Linked DNA regions of Homo sapiens. The protein of the gene in region 2 purifies or fractionates together with the protein of the main gene of each other region. This does not show direct contact. Each region holds a gene or a part of one and is shown on either strand. Other genes may lie near its edges.

Region 1 (3,722 bases), on a different chromosome or scaffold from region 2:
CTACATAATGAACTATTTTTTTTTCTAGGTGGAGTAATGTATATAACGTAATTATATTCTAATTAATTGTTATGCTTATTTTTACAGGTAGAATTAGAAGATCATGTGATGTTGGAGTAGGAGGGTTTATCTTGGTGACTTTGGGATGCTGGTATGTTTGCTAAGTATTCAAGAACATCCATGATTATAGTAGGTTATCTAATTCAAAAAGCACATGCTCTTTTCAGAGCAGTCTCCCATTGGGAGATCCTCACCCTCAATGAAGAATCTTGATTTTTCAGGACATTTTCATGGAAATCTTAAAATGCTTGAACAGATAAATGCATATTAGACATCCCATTAAAAAGAAAGCTGTGGTTTTTACACTTCACTTAGGAAAGCCTCAACCATTTCCCTTACCCTAATACTTATTTCATCCCTGCTTATTCATATCTGAAAATGCTACTTTAAGAATGTGTTTACAACTACTGATGAGTGAATATAAAATATGGATGAACCTCAAATATTTGCCAGACCTAAGAGTATGATATGTATGTACTATATGGTTCCATTTATACATGAATTTCTACAGTGAGCTATTTAAGGTGGTAGAAATCATTTTATGTAGACATAGCATTATTATCCCGTTAAAAACGAGAGCAAATACTTGTTTCTTATAATAGCCAATGCTATCAGAAGACTTAAAAACTAATGGATTTTATCACTTTACAAATTGTTATGTAGACATCCTTTTTTTCCTAATAAAAAAAGAATGTGTTGATAGGTATTCTGACACCAAAACTGCCCAAAAATAGCACTATAAATTAGAACATATTTTTCAGTCTCAGGGTAGTAGTCATCTGTATTTAAGTTTTGTGTGATTTAGAGAAATTTCATAAATTAATTTCTGTAGGACTTTATATTAACAATTTATTCATATTCTTTTCTTCTAAGGTTTCATTGTAGGTATAATTATGCAAAGCAAAGAATCCAGGAAAGAATTGCCAGAGAAGAAATTAAAAAGAAGATATTATATGAAGGTACCCACCTCGATCCTGAAAGAAAACACAACGGCAGCAGCAGCAATTGAACAATCTTGAGCATAGAAGTCAATGTAAACGAAGTTAAGATCAACCACATAAAACATTTCATGTGCAATAAGCTCTCAATCAAGTAAATAAAGTTTAAGTTGTAGTCATTTTTTTCCCACACTTGTGTGGAATGAAAACTTGCCAGTTTATTCTGGCCCTGTGTCTACTGCCAGGATAGCATTCTTACGTGTTACATATAGTGGACTTGTCATCCTTAAAATGTGAACAGAATTTATTGGCAGTGTGGCAAAGAATTATAAAACATAGTGTTTAATGTACTTGGAGTTTCCTTGTAGTAGTAAGTATAGAGTTTGATGATAAGTAAACGTCCCTTAACAAAAACCTCAACCTTATTACTATCCCATTAAAAAACAGCAAATACTTACTGAGTTCTTGTAAGAGCTAATGTCATTGTAAGATTTAAAACTAAGGGCTTTTATCACTTTGCAAATTATTTTTTAAATGCATTCATCATTTGACAGTGTTCTCTCATTTCTTAAAATGCGAGTCATCTTCCAAAAGAGTTGTTTTTAACTGCCCTAAACATTTTTGGGGAAGTATGCAGGGTTTAAATTTTTAAGTATAATTAGTTCTGAATTAAAATATGCACATGGAACTTGTCTGGCAGACTGATGCAATAGTAAAACAACTGCAGAATTACTATTAATGTAAACAATCCATTTGAAAGTCAATCAGCTGCTCCCATTAAAATATTATTTAAAATACAATACCCACAGCATCTAACTAAATCCTCAGGATTTATTCTCCGGGAGAAATTATCCCTTTCTAGGAAAATGAAGTTATTTCTGGTTTTAATTCATACAATACTTTAAGAAAATCTGTTAAATATAACAAAACACAAGCTAGATGCTTAAGAAATGCTTAAAGAAATATTGGGGCGAAGGTAACAGCAGTCAACAGGATTGTGGCCATTACTGGTCCTATTATTTTGATGTACCATGGAAGGCACAGAAATCGAGCAAGGAAGAAAATATTAGTTATTTTGATCTACATCTTTTTCTAAAGAAAAGTGGAGCTTGCCTCCAGTTCAATTCACAAGAGCATTTTCCCTCCCATGCCCACCTTTTCTTGTGGCTGTCGCTAGGAAGGATGCAGAGGCTGTGTGGTTTACCAAATGCCTTAACTTAGCAGTGAATGACAACTGTCAAACACATGTTGAGGGAAAATTTTTACTGATTCACAAAAAGGAAGACAGTTTGCCCACTCTTAGTGGCACAAATCAAAGCTGCATGCACTACATTATCCAAATTAGTCGTAACCAAATAGTTAAAAAATTCTGCTGGGCACGGTGGCTCATACCTGTAATCCCAGCACTTTGGGAGGCCGAGGCAGTTGGATCACCTGAGGTTAGGAGTTTGAGACCAGCCTGGCCAACAGGGTGAAACCCTGTCTCGTCTAAAAATACAAAAATTAGCCGGGCGTGGTGGTGCATGCCTGTAGTCCCAGGTACTCAGGAGGCTGAGGCAGGAGAATCACTTGAACCCGAGGTGGGGCAGGCGGAGGTTGCAGTAAGCCAAGATCGCGCCATTGCACTCTAGCCTAGGTGACAGAGTGAGACTCCATCTCAAAAAAAAAAAAAAATTCCATAGGATGTTCAACCATGTTTTCAGAGGCCGCACTGCATGAATGCGGGAAAATGTTGATGATCACTAATCAATAATCTGATATTTAACAAAATATGGACAGGCCACTTATGCTCAGTTTTACCTTAGTTATTCCTTGGTATCCACAGGCCCAAGTCCCTTTAAATAAAATACCCTCATATTTCCATATAATCTACATACATTCTCCCATATACTTTAAATCATCTCTAGATTACTTATAATGTCTAATACAAAATAAATGCTATGTAAATGTAATTATTATACTGTGTATTTTTGTTGTTGTTCTTCATTGTTATTTTTTGTCTTTTTACCTCCAGTATTTTCAACCCACAGTTGGTTGAATCCAAGGATGCAGAACTGGAGGACATGGAGGGCTGACGTGTAACATACATAACATATAAAACAGGTCCCTTCCAGCGCTAGCACACTGCAATTACATCTTACCCTGAATAAGAGAGAAACTCTGTTTTGGCTGGTAAAATTTCCAATGTCTTCACCAATAACAAAGCTCATTTTCACAGAAGTTTGCATAAACTGGAAACCTGGATAAAAACAAAGTTGTAACATATTTGGTTGGATTATTTTTTAAATGTTTCATGTATTTACATGATCACTAATAATTTTTATTCTTATGCTATTAAGATTTTACAAGTGTATTAATAAATTACCAAAGTCTGTAACACCCACCCTCAATAAGGAGAGACTGGTAGAACGAAAGTCTCTCCTATCAATGTCTACCCTACCATCCAACTTCACGTCCAAACTATTTAGTTTTTTGCCAAACCTTCAATGCACTATGACCTTTTTTTTTTCTCTCTTGAGATGGAGTTTCACTCTCGTCGCCCAGGCTGGAGTACAATGGCGTGATCTCGGCTCACTGTAACCTCCACCTCCCAGGTTCAAGCGATTCTCCTGCCTCAGCCCCCCAAGTAGCTGGGATTGCAGGTGCGTGCCACCACGTCTGGCTAATTTTTGTATTTTTAGTAGAGAGGGTTTCACCATGTTGGCCAGGCTGGTCTCGAACTCC
Region 2 (4,044 bases):
CCATGCGCTCCCTGAAAAAGTTCAAAGGCATGAAGAATACGCAATGGTCACTCAGCCACAAACATGGAACAGCACCCTGGCCAGAAGACGACCAGCTCCAGAGGGCTGAGCAAATGCCTCAAGTGCACACACATGGGGCACACTTCAATGTCACATCACGAATGCAGGGCTTTCCAGAGTCTCAGTCCTGAGGCTGCTGAAATGTACCTATGCATCACAGGGTTATCACAAGTGAGGAGGAGGGAAATTCTAATCGTTTTACAGGTAGCACTGATAACACATGTGGGGGGTCCACGTGTGTGAATAATTCCACAGGCAGCCATGAGCCAAGGCTTGGGGGTCTCAGAGACTGCAGGTGCAGGCCGATAATCCCTTCTCCTGGGAGGAGGGAAGAGAAGTTGACGTTCCACTCAAGGTTGTAACTAGGCAACTAGGCCGGGCACGGTGGCTCATGCCTGTAATCCCAGCACTTTGACAGGCCAAGGCGGATGGATCACCTGAGGTCAGGAGTTCGAGACCAGCCTGGCCAACATAGTGGAACCCCCGTCTCTACTAAAAATACAAAAATTAGCCGGGCATGGTGGCAGATGCTTATAATCCCAGCTACTCAGGAGGCTGAGGCAGGAAAATCACTTGAACCAGGGAGGCAGAGGTTGCAGTGAGCTGAAATCATGCCACTGCACTCCAGCCTGGGCAACAAAGTAAAACTCCATCTCAAAAAAAAAAAAAAAAAGTTGTAACTAGTTATGTTCAAGGAACCCAACTCACCTTCTCCGTTTAAGCCCAATACCTGAGTTGGCCCAGTTATTCCTGAATCCAACCTCACACTCAAACTAATGAAACAGCATAGGTCCAAAGCATGGGGTTGCCAACAGCCAAATCCAACCAGCCATTTTTTAAAATAAAAAATATAGGCCGGGTGTGATGGCTCATGCCTGTAATCCCAGCACTTTGGGAGGCCGAAACAGGCAGATCACAAGGTCAGGAGTTCGAGACCAGCCTGATCAACATGGTGAAACCCTGTCTCTACGAAAAATACAAAAATTAGCTGGGCGTGGTGGCGCCTGCCTGTAATCCCAGCTACTCAGGAGGCTGAAACAGGAGAATCACTTGAACCTGGGAGGCGGAGGTTACAGTGAGCCGAGATCGCGCCATTGCACTCCAGCCTGGGCGACACAGAGAGACTCCATAACAAAAAAAAAAAAAAAAAAAAAAAATATATATATATATATATATAGAGAGAGAGAGAGAGAGAGAGAGAGAGAGAGAGAAAATGTAGTCAAATAGACATAACATAGTATTTATTATTTTAGCCATTCACAGGTGTACAATTCCCTGACATTACCCACATTCACAATGTGGTACAACCATCACCACTATCTACACCCAAAACTTTTCCATCATCCTCAACAAAAATTCTGCACCCATTAACCAATAACTCCTTCCCTCATCCCCATCCTCAGTAACCTCTTTTCTACATTCTAGGCAAATTCATATAAGCATAAGCATATAAAATTTGCCCTTCTGTGTCTGGCTTATTTCATTAAGCATGTTTTCAGGGTCTATTCACACTGTAACATATATCAAAACTTCCTTTTCATGGCTGAATAATATTCTGCTGCACGAATGTACTGCGTTTTGTTCATCTGTTCGTGGGTGCAGGCCATTTCCACCTTTTGGCTCTCGTGGATAATGCTGCACATCTGCACACATTGGGGGACAAACGCCTGGAGTCGTGGCTTTCAATTCTTTTCGATACATACCTAGGAGCAGAATTGCTTGGTCACAGTCTATGTGTCACATTTTGAGAAACTGCCAAATGGTTGCCCACAGCGTGCCACCACCTTGTTTGTATAAATAAACTTTTACTGGAAGAAAGTCTCACTCATTCATTTAAACACTGGCTGTGGCTGCTTTTGCACTTCAAAGGGGAGAGGAGTCCTTGCAACAGAGGCCCTGCGGCCTGCAAAGCCTAAAATGTTGCCTCTCTAGGCCTTCGTGGAGAAAGCTGACCAACCTCTGGTCTAAGGTCACTTCCCTGGTGCAGCCTGTGTTTTCACAGACTAGAATCCCAGTGCAATGGTCTGTATTGGCATCATGGGTCAAAAGTCTCAGAATGCGTTCAGAGTAAGAGGCTGAATCCCACGGACGCACGCTGGCCATGCAGGATCGAGATCAGCAGCCCCAAACACAGACATGGTAGAAAGCACCCAGGAAGCTGGCTGGAATGCTGGTTCCCAGGCCTCACTCCTTGAGAATGCATTCCAGGTTGGGGCTGGAAAATCTGTTTTTTTGTTTGTTTTTCTTTTTTGAAACAGAGTCTCGCTCTGTTGCCCAGGCTGGAGTGCAGTGGCATGATCCTAGCTCACTGCAACCTCTACCTCCCAGGTTCAAGTGAGTCTCATGCCTCAGCCTCCAGGGTAGCTGGGATTACAGGTGTGCCACACTCAGCTAATTTTTTGTATTTTTAGTAAAGATGGGATTTTGCTGTTTGCCAGGGTGGTCTTGAACTCCTAGGCTCAAGTGATTTGCCTGCCTCAGCTCCCAAAGTGCTAGGATTACAGGCATGAGTCACCGTGCCCAGCCAATCTGCTTTCTAATAATATAATAAGCTCCCTAAAGGAAATGTTCAGAACCACACTAGGAGAGATCCGACCTCCTATAGCAGGAAACCCAGCAGCTCCATGTCCACACACAGGCCACGCAAGGCAGCTGGCTGGGGTGGCCTCCAGACAATTCCCCCAGAATCCAGCGTCCAGCCCAAGTCCCTGCCTATAACCCAGTGTCCGCTGCCACAGCAGGGGGCTCTTCTGGAGCTCGGACACAGGCCTGCTCCTCCCAGTGACAAACCCGGGAGCAGGTGCTGGGAAATCACTCAGTGGCTCCCATTTCCTCGCCTGCTGGTGAATCCAAAACAGTGCCAACAGAACGCATCCATTTCTTAATGATCTGACCGCCCCTGCGAGAGTTCAGCCCCTCCTAGGCTTCCCTTACCATAGTGAAAACACTTTCCCTGCAGGAAAGGCCAGCAGGAACCCCTGGATCCTACTGTTTAGCTCTTGCTGTGGAAATTCCCATACATCGGACAGGTACCAAAGGCTCGGAGATCTCAGCCTGTCTGCCCCCCAACAATGCAAGCCCTGCAGCTAGGGCTCTGCGTCTCAGGACATAGCCCACTGGTTCTCAATTAGAGGCAACTTCACCCCCCAAGAAACACTGGGCAATGTCTGGAGAGATTCTGGCTGTCACAACTAAAGGATGCTACTGAACATCCTACAATGCATAAGACAGCCCCAAGGCTAAGAATTACTCAGCCCCAAATGCCAACGGTGCCAAGTTGAATAACCCCGATGTAAATCAAGTGAGTGCATTTTCAGCCAATAAACTACTACTGTCCAGAATCACCACTTCAGTATTCCCAGCACTCACCTGACCTATATTTTAAGCAGTTCTGTGTATTGGCAAGTGCTCGCTTGAATCCACCATATGTCAGAACTAAGGACAAGAGGTCCCTTTCCCGCCTTCATGGTGTTTACGTGTACCCTCTAAGGAAGAAGATGGCGAACTACCCCCAAAAGAGAAGTGTGGTTGAAAAATCTAAGCCTCTTGAAAGGAAGGTCCAGGGAGCTATGGAGAATCAAGAGAGATCCAAAGTCAGAAGTCAGCATAGGAAAGGGCCCCTGAGAGAATCGGGAAGGCTGAGACCTGCGCAGAGTCCAGGGGCACCCGGGAGGCCAGCAGAGCGGAGCAGTCGCTGTGGATCCCCTTGGGCTTGGCAAAGCAGAGAGGGGAAGCCAGCAGAGCACACACACTCTGTTGGAAGAATCTGCAGGATGGGTCCATTGACTGCATGTGGAGGGGAGAAGCTTGCAGGACCTCTCTGGAGCTGCACCAGGGGTCACTAGGCAGCTCTCTACGGTGGACGCGGGAGCACCCCAGGAGGAGCAGCTGGGGGGTGTGGGGGGTGGGCAGGTCGAGTGTGTCTGAATACACTCAAGGAGCAAAGAATCCCACTGGCCTTGGGAACAAGTGAAGCAAGTATCA

What was found.
Region 1: the proteins of RIPK4 (region 2) and COX20 purify together in Homo sapiens (affinity purification with mass spectrometry, with the first as the bait; one large-scale study listed by BioGRID). This does not show direct contact.

What each region holds. Positions count from the first base shown.
Region 1 is NC_000001.11:244,842,108-244,845,829, forward strand, and holds the end of COX20 (cytochrome c oxidase assembly protein COX20, mitochondrial), read left to right. Parts: intron 1-87; coding exon 88-151; intron 152-933; coding exon 934-1,069; 3' UTR 1,070-2,950; downstream 2,951-3,722. UniProt on the Homo sapiens protein: Essential for the assembly of the mitochondrial respiratory chain complex IV (CIV), also known as cytochrome c oxidase.
Region 2 is NC_000021.9:41,756,806-41,760,849, forward strand, and holds part of RIPK4 (receptor-interacting serine/threonine-protein kinase 4), read right to left. Parts: intron 12-4,044; coding exon 1-11.